Homo sapiens: one gene and its partners. The protein of the gene in region 5 purifies or fractionates together with the protein of the main gene of each other region. This does not show direct contact. Each region holds a gene or a part of one and is shown on either strand. Other genes may lie near its edges.

Region 1 (4,143 bases), on a different chromosome or scaffold from region 5:
TTGTCTCTCTATATACCCTTTTGTTAATAGAGGGGTACATTCTGGGCTTGCAGGTTAGAACCAGGCATAGTCTCACATAAAAAAAGTATTACAGCTAGTCACAATGCAGCAAAATGGCATCTTTTTCTAATCTTACTTTAGGCACAATGTGGATTAAATTAATTTAAGGATCTCTTTCTGCCAAGACAGCATTCATCTTGGGGAAAATGCATTCCAAGGTCCAAATTGCCAAATGGGTTTTGGAAGCCCAGCCAGTTGTTCTTCCTGTTTTGCCTTACTGCAGATTGAGAGGGCCCTCAAAGGTTAGGGAAACCCAAGAGGGAATGAGGAAGCTTGAAAGCTGAGCATTCAGAGGAAAGCTGGAATAGCACAACGCCCTCCTCTTGCCTTCTTGGCTGGAGCTTGTGCAGTGTGGAGTTATCCGCCTGAGGCTTCCAGGGGAAGGAGCTGTAACACAGCATATCTTTACCCCTGGGTCTCACAGTGTACTGACAAGGCTTCCCCAAATCCAAAATCCCCTTTCTTCAGCCTGTTTGAAGGCTTTCTGTGTGGGCTCCCACTGCTGGATGCTGATGACCGTTCTGTACATTCTTTGCAGATGCATGTTTTGGTGTGACCTTGCTCATGTTGATTCTGTAGTTCAGTTGTTTTTGCTAAGTTTCATGATGCAGGTAATTGCAGAAATGAATCTCCTATTAAGTCAGTGAAGATGCTTTCAACTGCAAATTATAGAAAAAACCCAGACTCAGTTCGAGTTAAACCAATGATCCTCCAACTTTAATATATATCAGAATCACCCTATTAAAATACCAACTGCTGGGCCTTACCCCCAGAGTTTCTGATTCAAGAAATCTGGGATGGGGTCCAAGAATGTGCATTATTAACAAGTTTGCAGGTGATGCTAATGCTGAAGGTCTGGGGCCACACACATTTCGAGGACCACTGACTTCATAGGAATGATATTTTATCTCACCTAAAAAGAGGCTTGGAGGTATGTGGTTCCATGATGAGTTAATTCAGTTACTTACGGACCTCACCAAGGATGTTCTTTCCATCTCTTCTCTTTCCTGCTGTCCATGTCTTGGGTCTGTCCTGGTTTCAGGTTGGCTCTGGCAGTTCCAGGTATCCCATCCAGATCCAGATTAAATGACACTGAGAGGAAGAAGTTTGTGGGGCTTTCCCTCTATTGCGTTTAAAAACAACAACAGAGAAACTTTACTTATTACACTTGGATTTGAGGTCATTGGGTTGAGTCAGAACTTCTAGATTATCATGCTCCAGAGTCAAAGCTGCATAGAAGGGGCATCCAAGAGGCAGAAGTGAAGGGGTTCCTTTTGAGCTCTGCCATTTCCACATGGAATTTCTTTTCATTTTTCCGAGTACTTGCTGCTTCCCAAATCTGGGAAGGATGTATCCTTCTGTGGCCCTGCTTTGCATCGTTTCCCACTTCTTCGTGGTGGATTTTGGCCCTGGGATTGGCCCATCCCTTCCTTACCATCTCTTTCTCTTAAAGAACTATGCAAGAGTTTCCTGTTCTGGGTGAGGGTTGGAAAGGAGCCCTCTTTCCCTGCCAGCTCAGAGACCCTGTGAGAGGCTGCAGGAGAAGGATTCCTGTGTGGTCTCTTCTGTGTATTCATCTAAACAGATTTGCCTTTCCCACCCCATCACCTCTTGCTCTTCTCCTAGGTGAAACTCGGGGGTAAGTGTACTCTGTGTGTGACTGCTCATGTAATCCTTAGGCCTGATGTGTTCCTCTCCCCTTCCACCATCTCATCCTTCCCTATAATCCCCACTGAGTCTTGGTCTCTGCTCCAGATCCTGCAAGCCCTGGGGAAGTCCTACCACCCCGGCTGTTTCCGCTGTGTCATCTGTAATGAGTGTTTGGATGGGGTGCCCTTCACCGTGGACTCAGAGAACAAGATCTACTGTGTCCGAGATTACCACAAGTAAGAAGGGATGGGAGCAGACAGGACCCATTCGTGTAGGCCAAGCTGATCTCAGCAGAGTGAGTGGTGGAAACCGACAAAACTGTGTTTGCCAGCCGCCCTTAGATCACAGTCCAGCAAAGGCTTAATGGTTTTGAGGGGTACAGCAGGGACCTTGGGAGGTTGGTCGATGCCAGTGTTGACAGGAATGGGTTAAAGAATCATGTTTAGTGAAAAAAAAAAAACAACAGAGCACAGAAAAACTAATAATCATATTTGTAGCTAGGCCTCGGGAGGAATCCACCAAGCCCTGTGGCTTCAGCGTTACCTAACTTCACAAGGCCCCTATGCAGTGCTGGTTCCTACCACTCTTGGTTTGCCTGGGCCTGTGCTAGGCACCATGAGAGGTGTAAACAAATCAGTTAGTGCTGTCCCCAGAAGAGTGAGAGGCAGCCAGTGTCCTCATTGCAGCTGGGGAGCAAATACTAAGGCATATTCCACAAAGTGAGCCAGGTACCAGTCATTCTATGAGGGAGGAGAGCAAGGGGCAGGAGGCGGCATGGAGGAAGGCTCCATGTGGATTCCAAGTGCAAGTCTGACTCTGGAATTTGCTCCCAGAAGCAACATTTATTGCTGCTTTGTTTCTCCCCACAGGGTGCTGGCCCCCAAGTGTGCAGCCTGTGGGCTTCCCATCCTTCCACCTGAGGTAAGATGCCCTTCCAGACATGCTCCCAGGGGCTTCTAAGACATGAATATCTCCCTGGGCTCATTTACAAGATCCATGTCCTGTCCTTACAGCTTTTAAGGTATCCTTTTAAAAATCTCAACTCTGGCCTGGTGCAGTGGCTCACGCCTGTAATCCCACCCCTTTTAGGAGGCCCAGGCAGGAAAATTGCTTGAGGCCTGGAGTTTAAGAACAGCCTGGGCAACATAGCAAGACCTCATCTCTACAAAAAATTGTTAAAAATTGGCCAAGTGTGGTGGCATGTGCCTGTAGTCCTAGCTGCTTGAGCCCAAGAGTTTGAGGCTGCAGCGAGCTATGATGGTGCTACTGCATTCCAGCAGGTGACAGCAAGACCTTGTCTCCAAAAAAAAAAAACCAAAAAAAACCCCACTTCACCTTTGAGATAAGTCGTGTCTTCACCCTTCCTTGTTGACTGGCTTCCCCAACCCAGTACCCTTCTTGTGCTGATTTGTCCCCATAACCAGGTCAAACTCCCTTACTTGATACTAATTCTTAGATTAGCAGATGAGGAGAAAGGCTTGTCTTTTCTTCATTTTTTAAAATAAGTGTCCATGTAGGTCTTTCTTTCAGTGTTAACTCTGACATTCTAGAAGGAAGGACTCCTATCCCTCCTACTTCCCCTCTCATCAGCTTAAATGTATTCTTCTTCCAGTAAGTACTCCTGATTTACCTTCTCCTCCCAAGGCCACCTACTTGTTACCCCCAAAACCCTCTTCCCTCCCCACCCCACGGTACATCAAGCCCGACAGCCCCCCTAACAGGCCTCTCCTATGTGTTCTTGCTTTTCTCTGGTCCCAGGGCTCAGATGAGACCATCCGTGTCGTGTCCATGGACAGAGACTACCACGTGGAGTGTTACCACTGCGAGGTAGACCCCTCCCCACCCAGCCCCCAAAGCCCATTGTAGACATCCAAGAGAAAAGCATCCTGCGTTGACTGGGGCAAGAGGCAGTCAACAAGATTCTGGCAAGGGTCAGCCCTCTAGAGCTTCTGTAGGAAATGGAATGAAGGCTGGTTCTTGGGGGAGGTAGGAGAAGATGGAAATGCTCAAGGTATAAAGGTCTTTCTTCTGCATATTCAGAACTATCAAGTCCTGCAACTGTTGGAGCTGCTCTCCCTGAAGCTGCAGAGCTAGGAGGGTCGTGGAGAGCATGGGTTTCAGGTCCTATCTGCGGGCCACATTGTCAGGCAGGTGTGCGATTTGGGGAAGGGACTCCCTCCCCTCCAGCTTGCAGGCTGTTCTATCTGCCTGAAGCTCCTTTCTCAGCTGAGCCCTGGAAATCATGAAGCCCCTCTTGGAAACAGGCATGTCAGCTGGTGGTGTGAAGGCGGGTGGGGTCCGCCTGCCCCTTCCTGCCCTTTGTCCCAACCCAAGATGAAGGAGCACTAGTACCTGATGACTGTCAGGAAAGCTAGAGGTTGCCCCTCACCAACCCTTGTGAAGGGTGACCATGGAATTTCAGCCACAATTAAG
Region 2 (4,645 bases), on a different chromosome or scaffold from region 5:
GTGGGTGGGTCCTCACCCGCACCCTCATCCTCACCCGCACCCTCACCCTCACCGTAGCCTGAAGGGCCAGCAGGGGCCAGAGAAGGCAGCAGGGTCCCCAGGACCAGGTTGTTCTTTGTAGTCCCAGTCTGCTTCCTCTGCAGAGGCCCACAGGAGGACACGCCCAGAGTCTGTTGTCCCAGCAGCAGGGCCAGTTTCCTCCTCACACCCCTGGCAGGGCCAAGGCTCAGAGTCACCCAGAACCTGTTAACCTAGCATGTGAGTTACTGGCACCTCCCTCCCTGTTCAAGGGGTGCAATCCCCACGTGCCCATTCCAACAAGTGGGCAAGACCCAGATCCTGCCTGAAGTCAGCTGACACTCAGCAAGCTCACTGGGGGGCCAGACAGTGGTCCATGTCCCAGAACGAAGGCAACAGCAAGGTCTGAGGACTGTCCCATGTCCTTGTCCAAAAGCCAACAGTGTGCACCTTGCCACTTGCAAATGAGGCAGTCATGTGGCTCGTGAGGGAACGTTTTGTGGCCTCTGTCCACAGCCCGCTTGAGGAAGCAGGAGGGCTGGCCTGGCGTGGCTCTCTCCCAGAGCTCCAAGGGCCCTGCTCCCTCCTGCCCCCAGCACCAGGCTGCACGTTGGCTTTTCTGTGGCTCATCTCTGACCACCTACAACCATCTGCTGGGGAGAGCACCAGGACCCAACACGTTCCAGTGGACGAGTCCAGGAAGCCAGGAATGTATATTGGCTCAGCAGTACCCACCCCAGAAATGGATTAACACTCATGGAGACATCCGGATCGAAGACCTTGTAGGCACAATACTAAGCTCGATGAGTTAACTTTTCATTCTACAATGGGCTGAGAAAAATTTTGCCATTTGGAAGTCAGACCGACCTGGAGCCAAAACTGCAATGGGGCTTGGTCAAGCCAAGGGGCCCATCAGAGCCCCGAGGAGAGCCGGCCTCTCTGGGCTTAGTCTAGCAAGGAGAGCATGTCCATCCACCTGGCCACCCTTCACCTGGCCCAGCCTGCCCTGCCTGCCACGTGCCCAGCCAGCTCTCCACCATGGGAGGGACTTGCCCAGCACCTGCTTTAGGGGCCACACCCAGTGAGCTACAGATTAGGTCACGGCCACTCGGGAGGGAAGCTCCCTCATGAAGAATTTTCCAGGCACCACCTGCTGACCTTGCCCAGCAGGAAGGCAGGACACAGCCTGCTGAGGGCGGTCAGGGCAGCCTGGCTGTGGTCAGCGTCCAGGTCTCACCGAGTGGCCGGCCTCTGCCCTGGCTCCCTCCAGCAGCACAGAGGGAAGTCGGGCTGTGTGGTCTCGGCCCGAGCAACATCCTACTGGTGTCCTGCGATCACTGACAACCCAGAACAGACACTCTGGCCCAGTAACCGCAGGCCCAGCTCTTGGGACGCTGTTCTGGGTCTCCGGCCTGACCCTGCAGTCGCCTTTTGCCTCTTTAAGAACAGAGTCGTAAAACAGGAGCCCAAGCCTGGATCAGACAAACCTGGAGTCAGACCTCTTCAGCACTTACAAGCTGTGTGGCCTAGAGTCAATCACTTAACCTCTTGGTGCCTCAGTTTACTCATCTATAAAGTGGGAGTGATAATGGCCACCTCGTGGGGTTGCTAGGGACTGAATGAGACGATGCTCAAAGCAGGGGTACCATGCCCGGCACATTCCAGCACTCAACACCTAACCCCTGCTGTCACTGTCCTTGTCATTATTACCAGATTCACAAGCGGAGCCGGCTAAGGCCAAGGAGCTGTCCTCTGAGATCCATTTGCTCCCGCTGCTGGGAATGAAAACGTCGCTGACACCGGGCTCTGCAGAGCCAGTTTCTGATTAGATGGAGGTAACCCAAGTTCCAAAAACCACAGCTGAGGAGCAGCAGCTGACAAGCTGGTTGCATGGATGTGGAAAACTACCGCGTTCCAGCCGCCTCCAGACAGAAACAGGACGCATAGCCAGGTCCCACGGCAGCTCCAAAGAGGGCCTTGCACGCCAAGCGGGGCACCCCCCAGCCTGAGGGTTCACCAACCACGCGGACCACGCGGAAACCTAGCTGGGCTTCTCTCTCCCCTCGGGGCGCCAGTGCGGGAGGCGGTTTCTCCCTTGGAAGTGGAAGTCAGATCTGCTTCCAGGTTCCCGGTCTAGGGCCGGTCTAGGGCAGCTAAGCCTGCCTGCTCCTTCCTTTCCATCCTCCCTGGTCAGGGGAGCCCAACAGCAACGCGAGGGCACCCGACCCTCTGCCTGCACCTGGAGGGCGCCCGGGTCCCCCCAAGCCACGGCCAGGACGTCGCGTGGTGGGGCAGGGAAAGGGGCGCCGCCGCTGCTGGAAACTAGCCCTGTGCGCTCCGCCCGCGCTCCCCTCCCGGAGATGTCTCGAGCGCCTCTGGCGCGAACAAAGCCCGGCCGCCCCCGAGAAACTTCCGTGCATGAAGGTTTCCTCCTTGACTCGGCAGCAGCGGCCGCCGCAGGTGGGTGACTCCGCAACTCTGGAGCTCCGCGGAGGCGCGTTCGTCCCCAGCTGGATCTGTGGGGCCTGCGCCTGCGCGCGCTCCGGGCCACCTGCCCAGGTCACCTGCCCCGGCCACTCCGACAGTCCCTGCCAGGGCCGCAGCCCCTGCTCACCCGCTTCCCCCCGGCACCCGCTGCAGCGTGGGGCCCCTTCGCCTCGGTCCTCCTGCGGGCGACTCGGGAGCTCCTACCTGCGCAGCCGGCGGCGGGAAGCGGCGAATTTGGCCTCCGATTCCGCTCGGTCCTGCCCTCCCCCGCGGAGAGGCTCGGGGCGCTCGGCCGGTGCCCAGGCCTCCCGCCCCCGCGCGCATCCCCCCGGCGCTCCAGCCCCTGCCCACGATGGCGGCACCTGCCGCGCTCCTACGCCAGCAGGTCGGGCCCTGTGCACCCGCGCCAGCTCCCCGCTCCCCGCGCACTCACCGTCCCCGTCTCGAGGGCCCGGCCGCCGCGCCGCGCAGCGCTCCACGCTCTGGCCTCCCCGGCAGCCACGCGCCGCTTCATTCATCCGCTGGGGCCGCCCCCGCCGCAGAGGGAGGGGCGGGGTTTCCTGCGCGGGGCCCGCCTCACCCCCCACGGCCAATGGCAGCGGCGACCGCCCCCTCCTCCCCCCCAGGGCACAGAGGCGGGAACGCGCGGCGGGGGACCAGGGCGTCTCTCTCCGGAGCGCTGCCGCCTCCTGGACTCCCCGCTCCAGCTCCAAGGACCGGCATCGCTGCCGCAGCCGGGAGGCCGAGAACGCGCGGTGGCGACGCCGCCCCAGGCCACGCGGCGAGGCGGTTCCGAACGGACTCGGGATTCGCTCCTGGGCGCTGTGGGGCCGAGTGGAGCCAAGCGGCCGTTTTTCAGCTCCGCCCTTCCGAAAGGCTGCCGCAGGGTCGGGGCCACGTGGGGCCCGCGGCAGAGGGGCTGGGGGAACGCCACGGGCGGCCCTGGTGAAGGTGCCCGCCGGTCTCGGCCTGACCCCCAGGCCCTGTTCTGGCACGCGCCCCACCTGCGCGCACAGTGAGACCGGCGCCCTAGCCTGGGAATCCGGGGAATCTCCAGCCCGTTGCCTTTTCCATAACCCCGTCTTCTTTTTCACACTAGCTCTGAGGGTGGAAGGCAGGGAGGTGCCAGCCACGTTCCCTTCCACAGAGGGAACTCCCTGTTGGAATTCCTACCCCGGCTTCCTGCCGTCTGTCCTGGAACACATTGCTCCAGGCCTCCGAGCCTCAGTTTCCTCGTTTGCAAAATGGGGGCGATAACAGAGCGTCCTCAAAGGGGATAAGACGGAAGAAGTTGGCTCATATCAGGGCTCATAATTGTTGCCAAGTATTAACAGGTAACCACAATCACACTCCACAAAGCTTCCCTTTTAGTGTCAGTGAAATTAATTTAAAAGAAGTTTCCGAAAGTCAAGTGTGTGTGTGTGAATCCTGAGATAAGTCAGGTAAGGGGGGAAATGACCACCTCACGGCCCCAGGCTGGTGAGGAAGTCCTAGCCACGGAGGCGGTGCTGCAGGACCTGGCCTGGTGGCATAGCGTGGCGGGCGGGTTCACCGTGGAGAGACGAAGGAGGTGCTGCGGCTTGTGAGAAAAGGCCCACAACCCCATGCAGTTATTTATGAAATGGTTTTCCTTCCTCCAGGGCTTGGGGCTCCTGCCCACTCGTATCAGGTCCCGGGACCCCCCCGGTGGTGTCCTCAGGGCTCCCGCCGTCCCAGGCCGCCCTCCACTTCTGGAAGCAGACACGAGGCCACGAGACCCACTGCTTTTGGGTATCTGCTTTCATTCCTGACACTGCCCTTTAAGAGAAAAAAGTACCCACATTGTTCCCAGATGGAGAGGGTCCCTCCCAGAGGGTGAGGCACTGCCACAGGGGCTCACGGCCCTGCCAGGAGTGGAAGGTGCACACCCAGAAGTATTTCTCCTGTGAAGGAAGGGGGCTGAGCTTCGCTGCAGACCTGGCCTCAGGTGTGGATGAGCTTCGCTGCAGACCTGGCCTCAGGTGCGGAGTCTGCGGGAGCAGCATTTCCAGGCAGACCTGACAGAAGGTGCCTTTGAGAGGTGGTGAGCTCCGTGTTACAGGAGGCTTGTGAGCACAGGTAGCCCATCTTCTGGTGATGATGCTGGAGAAGCAATTCAAAT
Region 3 (4,143 bases), on a different chromosome or scaffold from region 5:
TTGCCTCAGCCTCCTGAGTAGCTGGGATTACAGGCATGTGTCACCATGCCCGGCTAATTTTTTTGTATTTTTATTAGAGACACGGTTTCACCATGTTGGCCAGGCTGGTCTCGAACTCCTGACCTCAGGTGATCCACCCGCCTCAGCCTCCCAAAGTGCTGGGATTACAGGCATGAGCCACCGCGTCCGGTTATTTTTTTCTTTTAAAAATAGAGATGGGGACTCATTGTGTGGCTTAGGCCAGACTTGAACTCCTAGGCTCGAGTGATCTTCTCACCTTGGCCTCCCAAAGTGGTGGGATTATAGGCATGAGCCACTGCACCCAGCCTGGCACAAATTCGGAATAAGACCCTGGGTTCTTAAACTCTTCATGGTTTAGGGGAAGACTCAAAAAAGCCACAAGACTCCTTGCTAACAAAGCTTGTGGTGTCTTGAAGGATGAAATGGAAAAATGAGGAAGCTGAGGCAGTACTGGTGCTGTTACTGTCGTGGACAGACCATGGTGCTGCAGAGAAATTGGTGCAGTGCCACCGGGATGCACAGGGGTCATGGGGGCTCAGGAGGGGGCCTAGCCCAGGAGGAGGGGATGCCCACACTGAGACTTCAAGGAGAGGCTGGAGTTAGGCATGTGCAGGGAACGGGAGAGGCGCACACCTGGCAGAAGGAGTGTGCATCAAGAGCCTGGCAGCAAGCGACTGTAAGATGGCCAGGAACTGAAAGCAGTTCAGGGCTGTCAGAGCACAAAGGGCCAGCGAGGGGTTGTGGCGGGAAACATGGTTGGAGGGAGCCAGTGGGCAGAGCCAGTTCATGAAGGATTTACCATTTCTGGGCTGCTGCTGCCCATCCCACAGTGGAGAACTTAAGACCCCAAGATAAAAGTGACTTACACAAGGTCACACAGCCAGCTGGGGTTCACTCAAAGCTAGAGAAGGAATCCCACCCCGAATCCCGCCCAGATCTCAGGGGGACGTCACTCACCTGCAGGCGTCCAGAGTAGAGCTGCAGCAGGAGGTGGTCAGCTGGGCCTGCTGCCAGGAGAAGGAGGGCTTCGGGCTGGGACGTGGAGAACTGCAGCTGCAGGTCTATGTCGGTCAGAGCCGTGGCCACAGGCACCTCCAGGTGGTTCTCACCGAAGAAGGAAGCTGTGTGAGAGAGGGAGCTGTGGTCAAGGCTCAGACTCTTGCCTGGAGGAGGCGAGGTGCCGCAAAGAGGGACGGGTGGGTTGCAGAAAGGGGTCCGTGCTGGCGCACCCTCATGGTTCTGCTGTATGGTGCTGCCTCTGAGCACTGCCCGGGTCCCAGCATCTTCTTGGTCCTGGCACCAGAAGGCACAGGCTCACCTTGTGTCCAGCCCAGATCTTGTATTTACAGGAGGTCAGACCCAGAAATTCCCAGCAACTCAGGTCTCCTCCTTGGAGGTTCCTGGAGCCAGAGGCCTCCGCCAGCTCTGACTCGCCTCCCCTGGGCCCCAGAGGAGTCTCCCTCGTGGGTCTGGCTCCTGGACCCAGCCCAAAGGGAACCGCAACTGGCCTGACCATCTGGCTTGGTGGTCACAGCCCCAAGGAATGGAGTTTCTGGAGAATCACCCCCAGTCCAGACTGATCCCTGCTCAGATTCCTTCTCCTAAGTGCCCTTGTGCTTGGGCTCCTGTGCAGCGCCTGCTGTGCCATGCCCCGCCTCCATGGGTTGGCTGAGGCCACGACTGGGATCTGGGGGTGGTGTCAGCATGGCCCACCTATCCCCGCTTCTCTCTCAGGCCATTCTTCCAGCTGCCATTGAGCGTCGGGGCAGGAGCTTATTGGCCTGAGTCTGCCAAGGAGCAAAGGCTCTGAGGCCAGATGGGGACCATGTGCAGTGTCAAACCAAAGTGGGCCCACACTTCCTCCATTACCCTTGCTATTGCTTCCTGCTGGAGAGCTATTCACAGTCCCCGATGAGCAGTCAGATCCGGCCCCATTGTTTCCACCGTGGCCAAGGAACCAGGGATGAGAACAGCTGAGTTCCTAACTTCCCCAGGCCACCACGCAGGCTGAGGCTGAAGACAGGGCTTGGGAGGGGCTGAGGGTCTGCTGGGCAGGCCAAAGAGGGCCTCCCCAGGCAGAAGGCCATGTCTGGGCTTGCCTGGGGTTAGTGGTTCCTATGCAGGGCCCGTTCTGTCCCATACTGGGACTCCTCCTCTTTTGAATTGCTGCTTCCTCCAGTCAGTTTCCCCAGATTAGCCTCCCTGACTTCCAACCCGCTGCCACAATTTCTGGTCCATGCCTTTTGTGGTGATAAGAGCCAAATATAACTTTGACTTTGCCTGCAGATGTCCAGGGCTGGGGGGTAGAGAAACACGGGTTAAAAACGGTGATTCATTCCTGTTGGGCTTCCCTCAAACCCGAGAGCGAGCACAGGCTGACGGCCTTGATAGGGATAATCCGGCACCAGCCCCATGTGCTGGTCCCTGGCCAGCCTGAGCCAGCTGCCATCCGCCTGAGTAAGCAGCTTCAGCCGTTGGAGGAGTCGGAGACTTGTACACCCTAAGGGCAGCCAGCCCCACTGGGAGGGATGTCCAAGAAAGATCCCGTAAGAACCCCTTGGGCTGAGTTAAATCCCCTCTAGTTATCTCCTCCTGCCAGCACTGCTGGCAATACCAGCACCTTGTCTGGGAAGCTACGGGAATCAAGGGAGCCCTGCAGACCATCTGCGCGGGGGCGGCCCAGCTGGTTCAGCAGAGCTTGGCGCCAGCAAGGGACAGACCAGGGAACTGCAGGTGGCGGCCACCTACCGGGGTGCCTTATCTGCAAAGACATTGATTCCTAAGAGCAAAACACAGCACACTAAAGTGAGGGAGGCCATAGCACAAGGGGTGGGGGCACATGGCCCTGCAGGATAGAGCCACCACCGTCACCTGCTGGAGCGGCTGACAGCAGCTGCCAGGAGTCTACTGTTGAATTTTCAGGAATTTTGAGAGCCAGGTGATACTGCCCACAGTGAGAACATTTATACCAGGAAAAGAGGCAAATACTGCAAATCAGGGTTCCCCCTCCCCAAGAAAGCCCATTGCTAAACATTTACCTATCCAGCACCCACAGAGAAGGGGGCACATGTCCCTGCCCCTACCCACCCTTGCACTAAAGGTATATGTAGACCCGCCAAGTCATGGTCAACATCAGGGCTCTGGGCCAGGCAGGAACTGAACTAGATGGTTGGCCCTAACCACTGAACCACCTGCCTGCAGCCCCCTCCCAGCAGAGGAGAGTAGAGCCTGTTTGGCCAGAGTGGGAGGGTGGCAGGAAGTAGAGGTACTTTCCAGAGCGCTGGGGTCTGAATGGGTCCATTGAGGGGCTGGGCCCTGCTGCTTCCTGTGGGGCTGAGCGGGAGGGGCTCACACAGGCTGTCTTGTGCTGCTGGAGCGCGTGGCCAGGCAGCCCCCCACCCCAACAGAGGCCTCTGAGGCCTTGCTGGCCAGGGCTCTGGAAACTCTGACAGCGCCACTCCCTCCACCTCCTGGTCTCCTTTTTTCTGCCCCTCTTACACTCTCTGAGGGGCTTCAGTTGCAAGAACTCAGAATCCCTGTCTTGGAGGTGGTGGGGGGGCAGTTGAAGAGGGGCTTCAAATGGAGAGGGTGTGCAGAATTAAGATGTAATAAGCTAGGAGTCAATCCAGAGGACTTCCTGGAGGAGGTCACGGTGGTGTACAGACACAGAGAGGGAGGAATAGGCAGTCTCAGAGGACAGCAGCAAGGCCGAGTGAGACTGGCAGGAAGTACACAGGTCCCCTTTGGGTGGGGCTAGGAGGGTTTCTGCTCCATCACCCGCTAAAGCCTCTGGCTAACTTGAAGGAAGAGAAGTAGAGGGAAAAGTAGAATGGGTCAAGCTAGGCTCGGCTGCGTGACTGGGGCGGGGGGATGGAGGAGGTTGTGGGGAGACATTGGCACAGGCTGGATCAGACCTGCCGTTGATTCTCCTGGGTCAAGAGGACCCATGATTCATCAAAACAGCAGACCAAACCTGTAGCAGCCCCATGGGCTGCCCTCTGAGCCAGGAGAAGGGGCCCACTTCAGGCCTCAGTGTCACCATTCTGTAAAATGGGCACAGTCCCTCCCACCCCTTCCCCCTCCTGACTGTGGGGATTAGTCCTGGGGGTCTCTCCCTGATCT
Region 4 (4,143 bases), on a different chromosome or scaffold from region 5:
ATTTTTATTGAACACGTAGTCATCTAATTATATATTATCAAGTTACAATTATTCAGTTACACATTTATTATCTCATATAAGGAACATCAAGAGAAGCTCACGGGCCAGGCACAGTGGCTCACACCAGTAATCCCAGCACTTTGGGAGGCCAAGGTTGGCGGATCCCTTGAGCCCAGAAGTTTGAGACCAGCCTGGGCAACATGGCAAAACTCCACTTCTACAAAAACAAAACAAAACAAAAATTAGCTGGGCATGATGGCACATGCCTGTAGTCTCAGCTACTTGGGAGGCTGAGGCAGGAGGATTGCTTGAGCCCAGGAGGTGGAGGTTGCAGTGACCTAAGCCCACACCACTGCACTCCAGCCTGGGGGACAGAGTGAGACCTAGTCTCAAAAAAAAAAAAAAAAAAAAAAGAGAGAGAGAGAGAGAGAGACTCAGGAAGAATGAGCCCAAAATAGGGAAAGATCACAACCCCAGCCAGACGATGGGGAACCCTATGTCCTCTGGATCCCAAGAGAGGATGTGCTAACCAACTTTCCCCTACCCACAGCGGGAGCACCAGCCATTTAGCCTGCAGTGTGAGGCTGTGTACAAAGCCCTGAAGATGCCCTACCGAATCCTGCCTCGGCAGCTGCCCCAAAAAGAGCGTCAGGTGAGTCTAGGGCCAGAGGACTGGATGAGGGAATACAGGGCTCAGAGTGCTGGAACAGGGCTGGGACTTGGGTGAGGGCTGGCCTTGGTATTGTTAACAACTGTTGAGAATGTACTATGTGCCAAGCACTGTGCAGATGCCAGAGACAGAGTGGTAAGCAAGATCAACATGGTATCTTTGCTCCTGGTGTTCACAGTCTCGTGGAACAACACAGTGTTCCAAGTGTGGTGATATTTATGAAAACACATAATAGGAACACCTGAACCCAGTCTAACTGGGTCAGGGAAGGCTTCCTGGAAGAAGTGATGTTCAAGCTGAGACCTGAAGAATAAATAGGAACTAACCAGGCTAGCCATTCAGGAAAGGGATATCCTGGGGAGAGGTGAATAACAGATATGAGGCTGAGCGCAGTGGCTCACACCTGTAATCCCAGCACTTTGGAAGGCCAAGGCAAGTGGATTGCTTGAGCTCAGAAGTTCAAGATCAACCTGGGCAACATAGTGAGATCCTGTCTCTACAAAAAATACAAAAATTAGCCAGATGTGGTGGCGCATATCTGTGGTCCCAGCTACTCGGGAGGCTGAGGCAGGAGGATCGCTTGAGACCAGGATGCAGAGGTTGTAGTAAGCTGAGATCACACCACTGCACTCCAGCCTGAGTGACAGAGTGAGACTCTGTCAAAAAAAAAAAAAAATGGATATGATATGAAAGCCCGAAAGTAAGAGACAATATTGTACATTTTAGGAACTTCAATTTTTAAGTTCAGAATGCTGTTAGTTCAAAATAAGAGGTGGAGTTGATCTGGAACCCAGACTCAGACATTGGCACCTAATCCAGGCAGATCCAGGACTATATTTGGGCCTGCTCCAGACCTGATCCTGGAGGCCCAGTTCACCCTGATTTAGGAGAAGCCAGGAATTTCCCAGGACCCTGAAGGGGCCATGATGGCAACAGATCTGGAACCTCAGCCTGGCCAGACACAGGCCCTCCCTGTTCCCCAGAGAAAGGGGAGCCCACTGGGCTCTGCAGATCCAATGACAAGTGGGGGCCAAGTATAGGGTAGAAAGAACTTCTGAGCTTTCATTGACTTCACCCAACTTGCTCCCCAGGTGGCCACAGCTGTGCAATGGACCAAGGCAGAAGGCAGCTATGGCGTCCCACTGTGGATCATCATCCTAGCCATCCTGTTTGGCCTCCTGCTCCTAGGTCTACTCATCTACATCCTCTACAAGGTCAGCCACATCCTGCTTGTGACTTGGCCACCCTCTCATCAGGCTCTGCCCTTGACCTGGCACAGTCCCAAGTATCTACCTCTAGACCAGTTCACCAGCCATGTGCCCCCACCTCTGTCCTGGCTACATGCATCCCATCCTAACCCTTCCTATAAGATCCCCCCCTTCATTCTATAGCCCCTAGCTTAGAAAGGGTCCTCTTGACTCAAGATGATAAGTTTGCCTATACTTGCAAAATCATTGGAACCCAAAGATGACAAATACGTGGCATTTGTGCTGTCAATTTCTCCAAAAATCCATGGCAGCCATCACTAACCTAGAAATGGCTACTGATCATCTCCTAGAAGTGGCTTCAGAATCTCTCTCAAGAGGCAGCCATGGCCAGGTGTGGTGGCTCACACCTGTAATCCCAACATTTTGGGAGGCCAGGGTGGGAAGACAGCTTGAGCCCAGGAATTCAAGACCAGCCTGGGTAACACACTAGGACCTTGTCTCTACAAAAAAAACACAAAGATTAGCCAGGTTTGGTGGTGCGTGCCTATAGTCCCAGCTACTCTGGAGGCTGAGGTGGGAGGATCGCTTGAGCCCAGGAGTTTGAGGCTACAGTGAGCCATGATCATGCCACTGCACTCCAGGCTGGTCAACAGAGTGAGACCCTGTCTCAAAAACAAACAAACAAACAGAAGCAGCCACTACTAAGCAATCAGACTTGGCATTTGAGTTCAAACCTATCTGCCATTTCTGGCTTAACTGGGGAATTTTAAAGGCACTGGTAAAAGATACCCCCCATACAAAATCACCCCCAAGTTTGGTCCTCCTGGGTCCATTGCACAACTTAGAGGGGTAGTCCTAGCCTGAATTCAGAGGCCACTTTTGCAGGATGTAGAGGTTGGAGGCACTAGAGTCCTCCTTATTACTTCTTGGAATAAGAGCTGTGGAGAAATGGCAGCCATAGTACCTAAACTCTCCCTCTTTTCCCCTTTATCAGCTTGGATTCTTCAAACGCTCCCTCCCATATGGCACCGCCATGGAAAAAGCTCAGCTCAAGCCTCCAGCCACCTCTGATGCCTGAGTCCTCCCAATTTCAGACTCCCATTCCTGAAGAACCAGTCCCCCCACCCTCATTCTACTGAAAAGGAGGGGTCTGGGTACTTCTTGAAGGTGCTGACGGCCAGGGAGAAGCTCCTCTCCCCAGCCCAGAGACATACTTGAAGGGCCAGAGCCAGGGGGGTGAGGAGCTGGGGATCCCTCCCCCCCATGCACTGTGAAGGACCCTTGTTTACACATACCCTCTTCATGGATGGGGGAACTCAGATCCAGGGACAGAGGCCCCAGCCTCCCTGAAGCCTTTGCATTTTGGAGAGTTTCCTGAAACAACTTGGAAAGATAACTAGGAAATCCATTCACAGTTCTTTGGGCCAGACATGCCACAAGGACTTCCTGTCCAGCTCCAACCTGCAAAGATCTGTCCTCAGCCTTGCCAGAGATCCAAAAGAAGCCCCCAGCTAAGAACCTGGAACTTGGGGAGTTAAGACCTGGCAGCTCTGGACAGCCCCACCCTGGTGGGCCAACAAAGAACACTAACTATGCATGGTGCCCCAGGACCAGCTCAGGACAGATGCCACACAAGGATAGATGCTGGCCCAGGGCCCAGAGCCCAGCTCCAAGGGGAATCAGAACTCAAATGGGGCCAGATCCAGCCTGGGGTCTGGAGTTGATCTGGAACCCAGACTCAGACATTGGCACCTAATCCAGGCAGATCCAGGACTATATTTGGGCCTGCTCCAGACCTGATCCTGGAGGCCCAGTTCACCCTGATTTAGGAGAAGCCAGGAATTTCCCAGGACCCTGAAGGGGCCATGATGGCAACAGATCTGGAACCTCAGCCTGGCCAGACACAGGCCCTCCCTGTTCCCCAGAGAAAGGGGAGCCCACTGTCCTGGGCCTGCAGAATTTGGGTTCTGCCTGCCAGCTGCACTGATGCTGCCCCTCATCTCTCTGCCCAACCCTTCCCTCACCTTGGCACCAGACACCCAGGACTTATTTAAACTCTGTTGCAAGTGCAATAAATCTGACCCAGTGCCCCCACTGACCAGAACTAGAATCTGTGATCTCATGTTACTCTTTCCAAACCCATCCTGGAACCAAGCGACTTGGTGGAAAGCAGATGCCTATTTCTCTCATGGCTTCTTTCCACTAGGAGCCAGAAGTATGACCCCCCAGAAACTGTGAAACTAGTTCTAGGCTCCCTTCTTAGGT
Region 5 (4,143 bases):
AAACTTCTCCTACATGGTGCTTTCAAACCCAGACCTGTGGCTCCAATCCAGTTAGACAGGAGCCACTGGCCGGCCTGCCTTGAGGAAACGCATTAGAGTTTATGACTTCTCTGGGCCAGAATGCCTGGGTTGGCATGTGCTCAGGACACCTACTTGTGCAACCTTAGGACAGATACTTTTCCTCTCTGTGCCTCTGTTTTCCTCTCTGTAAGAAGGGGATGATAGGCCGGGCGCGGTGGCTCACACCTATAATCCCAGCACTTTGGGAGGCCGAGGCGGGTGGATCACGAGGTCAGGAGTTGGAGACCAGCCTGACCAACATGGTGAAATCCTGACTCTACTGAAAATAGAAAAATTAGCCGGGCATGGTGGCGCATGCCTGTAATCCCAGCTACTCAGGAGGCTGAGGCAGGAGAATCGCTTATACCCGGGAGGCAGAGGTTGCAGTGATCCGAGATCGCGCCACTGCACTCCAGCCTGGGCAATAGAGCAAGACTCCATCTCAAAAAAAAAAAAAAAAGATAGAGGGGGTTGATAATAATGCCGACTTTAGGGGTGGTACTTAGAATAGTGCCTGGTACATGGTAAGTGTCCACAAATGTGGGTACTACTGCAATCATCTCAGTGGAGGTAGGGGAGGGCAGAGTAAGGAAAGCACCCTATGTTCTCCTTGCTTAATTTTGTTTTTATTTTTAAGTCACTGACCTCACTAAACCCTTGCCCTGCACACTGCCGATCATGCCTGTGAATTCTGGGACAGGCATGAAGCCCAGCACTCGATGGCCTCGGCCTCCAAAGACAGGCATGACTGAGTTGGATTCCTGGTTTTGTCTCTTATAAACAGTGCGGTCGTGGGCCAGTCACTAAACCTCTCTGAGTCTGAGTTTCCCTACCGGAAAAAGGTGAATGATAATTCCAACCTGCTAGGGAAAATGAAAAGTGCTCAGTGATGGAACACTTCTTCCCACAAAACTTGGAGGCATGAGACCGGGTTCATATTGTAGCTCAAAGTCACAAGGTTACTAGTGACATAGTCAGCAAGTAACTGCTGTTTCCCAAGGGCCATGAATGCATGTGTCCTCAGAGGCCAGACAGGTCTCATAAATAGTGAGGAAACCAGTTGGGAAGGTGGTAAAGGGGAAGGAGTATCTCCATACACCCAGTCATGCCAGATCTTCTGACTATTTTTAAAGCAAAAATAGAAGCCATCTTTTATATAAACTCTCTCAATTTTTGAATATTATATTAAAGTTGAAGAATACTATGGACCAGACAAAACATTCCTATACACCAGTTCAGCCGAGATCCACCAACATGAAGATTTAGCACAGCACCTGGTATTTAGCGAGGCTGCAACCAATGCAGCTGCTGCTATTTTGTGAAAGCAACTGATGGCTTGAATGGGGCAGAGAGAGTAAGAGATGGAGGGCACAGGATTCATCTGCAGTGAAAATCTATCCCTCCTTCTTCACCTCATCCCTTCCCTCCTCGTTATTGAGTGGGAGTGTATGACTGCAGCCTCAAAGAGCTTCAACAGAGCTTCACTGGGCATCTGGTGATTTGTGATTATTCAGTGATCTAGTGGGCATCTAGTGATTCATGATTATCCAGTGATCTGGCGGGCTGAGCTGCATGAAGGTGAGGTAGGGAGACACTGAGGCCTCCTCACCAGGAGTTCGCAGGCCAGAGGAAGACACAGTGTTGTCTGGCAGGACGGGGTAGGGGGAGCCATAGTGGGGCTGGAGGCTCCACGCAGTCCACTCTCCAGGGTTCCTGCCTTCCAAGCTTCTTCCCAACATTGGGCCCTGGCCACCTCCTTCCCAAAGTTGGAAACTTACGGGGCCTCCTCCTGTAAGGATCTACCAATAGCCCTTGAAAGGCCTGTCCAGGGCGGCCTTTTCCCCTACCTTACCTGCCTCTGCATCCCATCAGGATGCCGCGCCTTCTCCAGCATAGCTCTTCAAGAAGGAAACTTGGGAAGTTCCCAAGACATAAAAATAATCTGGGCCGGGCGCGGTGGCTCAAGCCTGTAATCCCAGCACTTTGGGAGGCCAAGGTGGGCAGATCACAAGGTCAAGAGATCGAGACCACCCTGGCCAACATAGTGAAACCCCATCTCTACTAAAAATACAAAAATTAGCTGGGCGGTGCGGGCATGCGCCTGTAGTCCCAGCTACTCCGGAGGCTGAGGCAGGAGAACTGCTTGAACCTGGGAGGAAGAGGTTGCAGTGAGCCGAGATCGTGCCACTGCACTCCAGCTTGGTGACAGAGCAAGACTCTGTCTCAAAAAAATAAAATAAAATAAAGAAAAATAATATAATCCGGTTGCCCTATTTGAGAGGCAGGTGCCAGATCCCCCCACCCCCAAATCTAGAGTCATGAATCCTAGTTCACATCCTAACCTAAGGCCCTACCACTATTACTAGTAACAGAGAAGTCATTTAACTTCTTGTCCTCATCACTTAAATGGGCTGACAAACCTCACAGCACAGAATTTGTGAGGATTAAGGAAAGGCAAACTAGCTTCTGTAAAACACCTACTGTGTGCTAGGAATTGCTAGTTTTCACATACATTATCTCCTTTGTTCCTTTTTTTTTTTGGCTCTATGAGGTAGAGATTGTATTATATAGCAATATTTTTAAACAATAGGTATCATCTGAATGCTTATTACGTTCCAGGTGCTATTCTAAATAAGCATTTTTTTATGTATTCATTTAATTCTTACAACAATGCCACAGGCAGGTACAGGGCAGTTATGTTATCGTCACATTACAGATGAGGAAACTGAGGCACAGAGAGATTAAGAGTCTTGCCCAAGGTCACAGGACTAGAAAGTAGCAGAGCCAGGGTTGAATCGGGACTGCCTGACTCTAACCACTATGCTGTTTGGAAAACATTTAAGATAATACCTGGCACTTAGTTAGCATTCAATAAATGTTAGCTGTAGCTATCATCATCATAATCATCCCCATTTTCAGGAGGAGAAACTGAAGCTCAGGCTAGGCAATTTTCACACACTTCCCTCCCACCCCCATCCTCCTGTAGTCATAGATGGCAACCCTGGAGGTCAATCTCAAGTTCATCTAGAACTCGTGTTCTTTCCACTGTTCTGAGCATTCAGCCATGAGGCTGTCATAGGCCCTCAGTGCTTGTTTCTGGAGGCTGAAGCAGCTCAACCTTCCATCCACTCCCTGACCTCCATCCTTCCCCTGGGGGCTGAGCAGCGGCCTATGGGCAATGGGCGCTGATTCCTTCTCCTTCCTCCTGCTTCCTGCAGTTTTACTGTGAGCCTGAGGGACCAGGCTGCCCATGCTCCTGTGACACTCAGGGCCTCCTTCGCAGACAGAACTCTGGCCTGGATCTCCCGCTGGGGGCAGAAGAAACTGATCTCAGCCCCCTTCCTCTTTTACCCCCAGAGATTCTTTGAGGTAGGTCAGAGCCAAATGATTACATCCCTTCAGGCTGGAGCACAGAGCTGAAGTCCCATAATGACCTGGGAGATGCTGGGGCAGGTGTGCAGGACAGATGTTATGGGGTGGGAGGCCAGAGCCAGCAGAGCACAGCGAATGTCTGTACAGCAGTCCTCAACGCTCCACTCTGATGCCAGGGATCCCATGGCCAGAAACTCAATTGATGCAGGTGGGGGGGGGCCCAGGCATCAGCTTTATTAAAAAGCTCCCCTAATGATTCCGACGTGCAGAACCACTCCTCTACAGGAAGCAGCCCCAGTTACAGGTGGTGAAACTGAGGCCCAAGGCTGGGAAGATCCTTGTCAAAGACCACAGTGGGCTGGTGACAAGCCGGGCCCCTTATCCTGTTCTTTTCCAGCACTGTACTGGGTGCCCCCTGGGTCCAGTCTTCGTGTCCTATGAGAGGAGGAGGGTCTCACTGGAGAGAGCGTCAGGCAGACAAGGGAAAGTCTGGCTGGAAGCTGCAACCCCCTCATGTCCTCCTTTCCCAGGTGCTGCTCCTGTTCCAGGAGGGAGGGCTGAAGCTGGCGCTCAATGGGCAGGGGCTGGGGGCCACCAGCATGAACCAGCAGGCCCTGGAGCAGCTGCGGGAGCTCCGGATCAGTGGAAGTGTCCAGCTCTACTGTGTCCACTCCTGAGGATGGTTCCAGGGAAATACCGCCAGAAAACAAG
Region 6 (4,143 bases), on a different chromosome or scaffold from region 5:
CTTTTGTTTTTCCATGTGGGGCCTGAGAAGTACTACTTCCACATATTCCTCGTAATAGAAGTTAAATTCTTGAAAACGGCTTTGCTCTCCTAGCAAAATCTTGCCTTTTGCTTACAGGGTGAAAGAACTATTACCTCTCTCTAGGAGGTTCACTTCTAGACCTGGATGAAGCCTGCTTCTGTTCAGGCCCCAAGGCTTGCTGCGAGGGCTCAGCCCCTTTGCTCCTGTCTGGTGGTGCGCTGGGAGGAGCAGCATCCTGGGAGGAGGCAGCTGCTGTGCTTAGGGGTGTCTGAGACCGCGATCGCTCTTGGAGTCGTGCTTTCTTTTCTCTTGGTACCTCAGAGCCAGCACCTGTAGCTGTATCACTCAGGGTTCCATCCTGACTTGTCTGCTGAGGGCCACTTCCAAAGAACCATGCCCCAGATTTGGTTAAGATTTCTTGTTGCTTTCGACATAAATTGCATACCCACATAACCTATTTGAAGAAGAAAGAACAATATAAATTTTTATGCCCTCTTGGAAATAATTTTTCAGTATCTTAAAATATATTTAAGAAAAAAAGAACAGTATTCATTTTCATATTTATCCTTGCAAATTTCTTGTGAAAATGGTCCTCCCACAAGTCACAGTCAAATATATGAATGCCTAGACAGGGACTTGTCTGAGACTAGAGAGCCTCTCAGCAGCCAGAGTAGAGGTTTTTTCTCAGCATTTCTGATTTGATTATTCTGAATTTCCTTTTACCATATATCTGTCATATTTTTTATAATTGACTCTGGAGTGTTAGCAAAAATGTTCTAAGCAAGGTAGTTAACTGATTAGAAAAATGTTACCAGGAAAAAAAAAGAAAAATGTTACCAGGAACTACAGAATCAGTACGTAAATACATAAACCTCAGTACTTGCAAGTATTTTTAAAAAGTCTGTCTTTTCAAAAATCACCCACAATTAAAGGCAATATTAAAAATATTCACATAGAAGAAACATACAAAGTAAGCACACAAAAAAGGTCAATGTGTATATTTTCTCTAGTTTCTTAGTGATAAACTAACCTTAAGCTTATTTATGCTATAAAATATAATTTTCCATGCACATATTTACTAAAGCAATAAATGTGACTCTGAGTTTATTCATATGTGACCACTCCAATGTAATGTTCCCCAAGGAGAGCTATTGGGGAACCATCATTTAGCAACATATCCACTGATAAATTATAAGATGTAGCACCACTTAAAATAAACTATATGTCTGTTCTCCATTTGATGACCTTTAAAATGAATGTAATAATGAGGACGATTATCATAATAAAAAATAATAATAGCAGCAATGACTAGCTGTCACAGGGCAAAGATAGGTGCTAACAGCTCCATGAGCTGTCTTTTCAAATATCCTCAGTACCTCTGTTTCTTTGTGCTGTGACTTTACATCGCTGCCTCAGTTACATGCCTCCAAAAGCACTTCAGGTGTTTTGTGTTTGTTTCTACTTCAGAAACTACCTCCACAGGAAAAACTAATTACCAAACTCTAGGCTTCCTTTTCACAAATACTGACTCAATCAACATGTACTCAAAAATATTGCATCAGGATGAATAAATCGTAGAAACATTAACTGATAAGTAATAGAAAATAGTAAAAGAAGCATTGTTTAGTAGGTCAAATGAAGAAAATGAACTACTGAAAATATTCAGATAAATGGGGAAAAACTGTAACTGTAGCCATAGAATAAGATGAAGCTAAAATAAGAATAAGAAAAAGACAGGAAAAAAGTAATACACTTTTTTAAAAGGAAAATACTGCAGGTGAATTAAGAACTGCTTTCCAGGAAAGAAAACTCAAATGAATTATAATATAGGAAAAATTAAGACTGAAGAGAAATACTTGCTATAAAAAATTTAAAATTCATGAAGGTTAATTGATTTATTTAGACTTTCCCAGTCATAAAATGAAGTGTACTAGGTTCAAAAAAGCAGTTAGGTATAATGTCTACACAAAGTATTATAACCAATATTACGGAATTCTCATCTACTAAGATGTCAAACAAGATGAACAATTCATTGCATAAACCTATATCAAAATAAGGATTTTATGGAAAGTAACTTCAATTTAAGTGCTAGCCAAATAAGGGTATATTTTACAAAATCTATTACTGAGTAGGTCCCTCAGAAGTCCTGATTGTTTGAACATGGACATATTAAGGGTAACATTAAAAGGTGCAGTACTCCAGGGCCAGGACCTTCATGAACAGTCAGTGACACTGAGTCTCTTCTGCCCAGAACCCTGAGTGGGGACAGGACGTGTGTGGTGGGAAGGTTTTGGTTGGTTGGTTTGTTTTTTGTCTCTTTAGCTGACAGACCATAATAAGAAAGTTTGAAATCATGTAATTCAACAAGACTGGTATGAAATTTTGACTATTTTACATCAAATAAGAAGACGTTAAATTTGTATTTCTCAGACTAATAGTAAGCAACTTATTATCATCATTTAAAGTAGGTTCTTTTCAGCCAGGTGTGGTGGCTGACACCTGTAATCCCAGCACTTTGGGAGGCTGAGGGGAGCAGATCTTCTGAGGTCAGGAGTTCGAGATCAGTCAGGCCAACATGGTGAAATCCCGTCTCTACTAAAAATACAAAACTTAGCCGGGCATGGTGGTGCATGCCTATAATCCCAGCTACTTGGGAGGCTGAGGCAGAAGAATCACTTGAACCCGGAAGGCAGAGGTTTCAGTGAGCTGAGATCCCGCCACTGTTCTCCAGCCTGGACGATAGAGCGAGACTCCATCTCAAAATAAATAATAAGAAATAAAATAAAATCAAGTAGGTTCTTTTCTACAGAAATATCAAGGTATACTTAGGATAAATATGCAGTTTTTAAAAAACCAGAAAACACAAATTTACAATTACAAAGTTTCTAAAATTGAATAAAGCTAAATAAAGAAGCAGAAAGGAGCACAATAATACTGATGAAGGGTAAAGGATACTCTTCATTTTACATTTGAATATTCTCTAGAAATTATTATCACAATCTTATTTTGATTGCTTCACATTTTTAAACGTTACAAAAAATGGGTCAATGAGAACTAACTGCCAGATTTGGGCATGTTCCAAATTTTGAGTATGTGCAGAACTGCTACCAGATCAATTAAAAGAAACACAATTTATTATTATTAAATAAGTTGAATTTTACAATTTAATTTCATTTCCAGTTTATTCAAAAGGTTACAATTAGTGACTATGTCAAAACAGCATAGGCATTTTAAATTCTATTCTTAAAATACTTTGTATTCATTTAAGTCTGTGATGCTTTGTTAATTTTTTTGTTTTTAACATTTAGTAAAATACTGTATAATTCCAAACTTTTTCTATGTCTTATTTCCTTGTACACCACAACATTTTTAAATTTGTATTTTTAAATTAACTATAAGTGTAGTCAATCCATCCTCCAAACTGAAAGTAAAATTAACCATGGCAATGTTAAAATATTTATTTTTATCAAAATATCACCTCCCAGTCTCTATTTTCAGTTCTACAAATTAATCATACCACAAATTTTACAAATAAAAAATAAATTGCTCATATAAGTTATAAAGAAAAATATATAAGATTACAATAGAATATTGTCATACATTTCAACACAGTTAATACCAAACATTGCAGACCTCTACAGTACATTTTTTGAAGTCAGTATTAAGTATTATATTTGCCTGAAGCTATAGATAATACAAGAGTGCTGTAGGGAGTCATTTTTAACAGATTTTTTTTTAGAAAAGAGGATAAGACGTAACTTTGCCTACAAAAAAATGCTATTTATTTAAAGCACACAAACACACCTTTTAGAAATTGCACTATGCAGGATTATACCCTGATTAAATACCCTGGGATGTGTTCCAAACTAATCTAAACTAAAGTAGGCCTGTGCAATAACTTATCTTAACAATTTACAGATGTTAAGCAATCACACACAAACTCAATTCAAATACTATCGTGAAGTTACATGACTTTTGAAACACCATGCCACATATCAGAAAATATGCAGGACTGAAAATTGTATTCTGACCTTTTGCTGTAACTGCATTTTTAATTGTCTTTTCCTCTTAATTCTTAAGAAGTACAATAAACTATTTTATAAAACCCATAGGAATTTTTTA
Region 7 (4,143 bases), on a different chromosome or scaffold from region 5:
TACTTACCTTAGGAACAAGGTCTTGAAAATGCTCCAGTATCACTGAGAATGATTTTCCATTCATTGCAAAATGATAACGAGTCATTTGAAGATCCTCTAAGCTATCATGGACCAATTTAACCGGAATAGCCTGTGTATATGAGACATTGGGAACAATATTTAGGCAACCAAACCAAGTAAAACAATTCTATTTTAAACATATTTGTTCTAAAACTGAATTCTTTCATTTGATATGTTCCACAACATGATGAAAGCCGGACATTTATTCAAAGTAAAAAGAAACTCAATTAAATATCAGCTTCAATTTGAAATGATGCATGAACTGAGTATGATGGACCACCTGCATCATTTACCACTAGTTACCTGAAGAATACGATAAACATCTGGAATTCTTGTACTTTAAAACTATGCTTCTCATCTTAGCTAAATATCAAAATTTGAACATTGAGATTCCTGGGTCTGTCCCAGTCCTAATGAAACATAATCTCTGAAAAAATAGCCCTGACTTCTGTTTTCATTTAGTTTTTGCTTTACTGTGTTTTAATGCACCACTTTTTTTATTTTTTCAGACTAAATTTAAATCAACAAACTTTAAAACGGACAGTCGATCTTGACCTTACCTCTGGGTCAATTGCTGATGGATGACTGCACTGCGTGAGGGAGTCTGCATAATGCCAATTTATTTTGGCAACTTTCCCATCCTTTGGAGGTAATGCTTCAGCAATAATCACTTTATCCTGAGGTAGAATCATTCCACAATCTCTGGCCACAGAGACAGCAGTCAACATACTGTCACCTAATTTTCAAAATATTTTAAATGTATTGAAATTAAAATGGAAACGTGAACGTATCAAACATGTACTTGCTGAGAATCTACTACAGTCTCCATGACTGGGCTGGCAGAGTAACGATAATGTATGGTTCTTCCACTTACAGTTTAAAAATAACAAAATTGGAGCATACTTATCAAAAGAAGCCTCAAATAACGCAAGCACGTTATATGCTAAAGAAAACATCTCACCCACAATTTTTAAAGCCAAATATAATTCTCAATCTTTTCCAGTCATGCACTATTTGTATCTACACAATACCTGGCACGGTGCTACACACAGATCAGGTGGCTCAATAAATACTTACCGAAATAACTTTACAAAGTGACTAGTGGTCTGTGCAAGAACACCAGCACCATATCATAGAAAATGATGAATTACAAAAGCAAGATCATACAAAACAAAAAGGTAAGACAGGTAATAAGAACAGGTGTAAACGAGAAACAAGAGAGACAACTTCTCAGTCATGAGAAGAAAGAAGAGCAGCAAGAACAGGATCTTATTAAGGAGAAGCAGACAAAGGTTTGTGGATCCCACTGCTACCAAAACAGAAGAGCGAGATATTTCTTTCCTCAATTTCCACACACTATTTCCAAGAATATCTTCCTATGACCTTTGGTACACAAAGCCATATTCTGGCAAGGGGAAAATAAATAAATAAATAAAAGAGGAGGACGAGGAACAGGTGAAAAGTGTCTTGACAAAGAAGACGCAAGAACTAAGAATGGCTGGAATGCTAACAGACTTAGTTACCTTGAGTTATACGGTAAAATTATGTTATTAGATAGATCTCAAGAGTCTAAAACACAAAAATGTATACAGACTTTCTCCATATTAGTCTTACTGAACACGTAAGTGCCATTAAGTATCTTAAATCTGATTATCTGCTAAGAAAAAAAAACAAAAAACAGAGCTACCACAATTTCACACAGCTAATGAGTAAGAGTTATCTAATATTATCAACAGTATAGTAACATCAGGAGAATCCCTTAGATGTACTAGAAAAAAAAAAGTAGGCTATTTCACTAGAATTCAAGCTAGGGTAATAAACAATATCTTACATATAAACATTTCATGCTATCGAATATCTATTAATCATTTTCTATGTAGCTGACAGTTCTAAAAGTTGCAAAGGACCCCAACATGAGTAAAATATACTCCTAACCCTCAAGAATCTTATATTCTAGTACAGAAAACAAATCTACAAATAACACAAGGTACAATAAGTGCTATAAGAAATATACGAATAAAGAGAGAAAACAAAAAGGAGTCAAGTTTAAATTTTTACAGTGTACTTTTACTATTCTTTTTTTTTTTTTTTTTTTTTTGAGACGGAGTCTCGCTCTGTCGCCCAGGCCGGACTGCGGACTGCAGTGGCGCAATCTCGGCTCACTGCAAGCTCCGCTTCCCGGGTTCACGCCATTCTCCTGCCTCAGCCTCCCGAGTAGCTGGGACTACAGGCACCCGCCACCGCTCCCGGCTAATTTTTTGTATTTTTAGTAGAGACGGGGTTTCACCTTGTTAGCCAGGATGGTCTCAATCTCCTGACCTCATGATCCACCCGCCTCGGCCTCCCAAAGTGCTGGGATTACAGGCGTGAGCCACCGCGCCCGGCCGTACTTTTACTATTCTACTACACTTTCTATAAATAGGATTCGCTAGACCTCAAAAAGAATATGACAAAGTTATCTTGCGCTTGGGAAAATATTCAGAGCTAAAAGAGAACTTAGGTTGAAACCACTATAGACTATATAATATGATTTTATAACTGATTATCCCTCAATATAATATAACTTCAGCTCTGTCACACTCCATTTGCTTCTGTGTTCTTTTATAAAGTCTAACCTGTGACCATGACGGTGCGAATGTTGGCTTTATGCAAATCTTCAAGTACTGCAGGGGTTTCTTGCTTTAATTTGTTCTGCATTATAATTAATCCCATAAAATCCATGTTGTTCTCAATTGCATCTCTGCAGAAAAAGAAGTTTTAACACATAATGGTTTAGTCAATTGAGTAAGCAACTTATGTACACAAACTTGAAATATCTAAACAATTAAAAATGTCTATAAGTTATAATGCAGTTTAAAATATCTATAAATGAAAACATTTTATATGCTGAATAAACCACGTGTGTGTTCAAGAGTTCAGTATCTCAATATAATAATCATTTGGAAATGTATGTCACTGTACACTAAACAATTCTAATACTAAGGAATATTCATTTTGTGTAGTATCCAAAAATAAGCATAAATCTATTCTTTACTGCCCTCTACAACATATCCTAATTTAAATGTTAAGTGAAAAAGAAAAAACTGTGCCACAAGCACATTCAATACAGTTTTCGTGGATTCATTATCAAGTCTCAGATCAATTCTATAAAACAATTACTGATCCTGAAAATGTGACACAAGAACCATTAGCAATCCAACAATGAGATCTACTTGGGACCCAGAGATGGGTCTTTGAAAATATTACTAATATAGTTATCAAGATGCTATTCTTTAAATAACTGAGTATCAAGAATGCAGCAGGCACTATGCTAGTCACTGGGAGGTTAAAGACAAAAAGGGATGATCTCTGCTCTCAAGACACTTGGGTGGGGAAACAGACATGCAACCAAAGAGATGCACACAAAAATAGTACGTGCTTTAGCACTATAAAAGAGATGAAGTCTGTTCAGTGATAGTTACGTTCTTAAGAAATCTCAGGTCAGGCATTGTAGCTCATGCCTGTAATCCCACCACTTTGGGAGGCTGAAATAGGAGGATTGCTTGAACCTAGGAGTTTGAGGCCAGCCTGGGCAGCATAGTGAGACCCCGTCTCTACAAAAAATGAAAAAACAATTAGCTGGGCATGATGACATGTGCCTGCAGTCCCACTACTTGGAAGGCTTGAGGAGTGAGGATCATTTAAGGCCCAGGTGGTCAAGTCTGCAGTGAGAAGTGTTTGTTCCACTGCACTCTAGCCTAAGCAACAAAGAGAGATCCTATCTCAAAAGAAACAAACAAAAAAAGAAAACAAACAAAAAACACCTCAACCTACCTGAATTATATCATAGAAATTTTTTTCTCAATGGGGAAGGAGGAGGGTCTGAGGTCAGAGACTAGAATTTCAGACTTGGAATAACCAAATGATTTTTCTGACAAAATTCCAATAAAAGTTGCTTGAAGTATGTATCTATGAAATCTAAAATCTTTGAAACACCTAATTTCTAACAATGGGTGGTAAGGATATTAGAGAATAGTTGAGAAAATTAATATAAATGAAACTGCTGGTTTTAACAGCAGGAAAAAGCCTTGAAACCTGAAATTG

What was found.
Region 1: the proteins of LGALS12 (region 5) and LIMD1 purify together in Homo sapiens (affinity purification with mass spectrometry; 3 studies listed by BioGRID and IntAct, with this or other methods). This does not show direct contact.
Region 2: the proteins of LGALS12 (region 5) and SLCO4A1 purify together in Homo sapiens (affinity purification with mass spectrometry; one large-scale study listed by BioGRID and IntAct). This does not show direct contact.
Region 3: the proteins of LGALS12 (region 5) and CSPG4 purify together in Homo sapiens (affinity purification with mass spectrometry; one large-scale study listed by BioGRID and IntAct). This does not show direct contact.
Region 4: the proteins of LGALS12 (region 5) and ITGA5 purify together in Homo sapiens (affinity purification with mass spectrometry; one large-scale study listed by BioGRID and IntAct). This does not show direct contact.
Region 6: the proteins of LGALS12 (region 5) and RIMS1 purify together in Homo sapiens (co-immunoprecipitation; one large-scale study listed by IntAct). This does not show direct contact.
Region 7: the proteins of LGALS12 (region 5) and ATP13A3 purify together in Homo sapiens (affinity purification with mass spectrometry; one large-scale study listed by BioGRID and IntAct). This does not show direct contact.

Annotation. Positions count from the first base shown.
Region 1 is NC_000003.12:45,670,875-45,675,017, forward strand, and holds part of LIMD1 (LIM domain-containing protein 1), read left to right. Parts: intron 1-1,815; coding exon 1,816-1,946; intron 1,947-2,579; coding exon 2,580-2,631; intron 2,632-3,468; coding exon 3,469-3,537; intron 3,538-4,143. UniProt on the Homo sapiens protein: Adapter or scaffold protein which participates in the assembly of numerous protein complexes and is involved in several cellular processes such as cell fate determination, cytoskeletal organization, repression of gene transcription, cell-cell adhesion, cell differentiation, proliferation and migration.
Region 2 is NC_000020.11:62,640,847-62,645,491, reverse strand, and holds the start of SLCO4A1 (solute carrier organic anion transporter family member 4A1), read right to left. Parts: upstream 2,990-4,645; 5' UTR 2,939-2,989; intron 1-2,938. UniProt on the Homo sapiens protein: Organic anion antiporter with apparent broad substrate specificity.
Region 3 is NC_000015.10:75,692,092-75,696,234, forward strand, and holds part of CSPG4 (chondroitin sulfate proteoglycan 4 precursor), read right to left. Parts: intron 1,143-4,143; coding exon 979-1,142; intron 1-978. UniProt on the Homo sapiens protein: Proteoglycan playing a role in cell proliferation and migration which stimulates endothelial cells motility during microvascular morphogenesis. May also inhibit neurite outgrowth and growth cone collapse during axon regeneration.
Region 4 is NC_000012.12:54,395,106-54,399,248, reverse strand, and holds the end of ITGA5 (integrin alpha-5 precursor), read left to right. Parts: intron 1-550; coding exon 551-652; intron 653-1,761; coding exon 1,762-1,884; intron 1,885-2,872; coding exon 2,873-2,956; 3' UTR 2,957-3,988; downstream 3,989-4,143.
Region 5 is NC_000011.10:63,512,285-63,516,427, forward strand, and holds part of LGALS12 (galectin-12), read left to right. Parts: intron 1-697; coding exon of another isoform or gene 698-704; exon of another isoform or gene 705-2,041; intron 2,042-3,278; coding exon 3,279-3,429; intron 3,430-3,962; coding exon 3,963-4,109; 3' UTR 4,110-4,143. UniProt on the Homo sapiens protein: Binds lactose. May participate in the apoptosis of adipocytes.
Region 6 is NC_000006.12:72,175,907-72,180,049, reverse strand, and holds part of RIMS1 (regulating synaptic membrane exocytosis protein 1), read right to left. Parts: intron 476-4,143; coding exon 135-475; intron 1-134. UniProt on the Homo sapiens protein: Rab effector involved in exocytosis. May act as scaffold protein that regulates neurotransmitter release at the active zone.
Region 7 is NC_000003.12:194,431,097-194,435,239, forward strand, and holds part of ATP13A3 (polyamine-transporting ATPase 13A3), read right to left. Parts: intron 2,801-4,143; coding exon 2,676-2,800; intron 797-2,675; coding exon 621-796; intron 131-620; coding exon 8-130; intron 1-7. UniProt on the Homo sapiens protein: ATP-driven pump involved in endocytosis-dependent polyamine transport. Uses ATP as an energy source to transfer polyamine precursor putrescine from the endosomal compartment to the cytosol.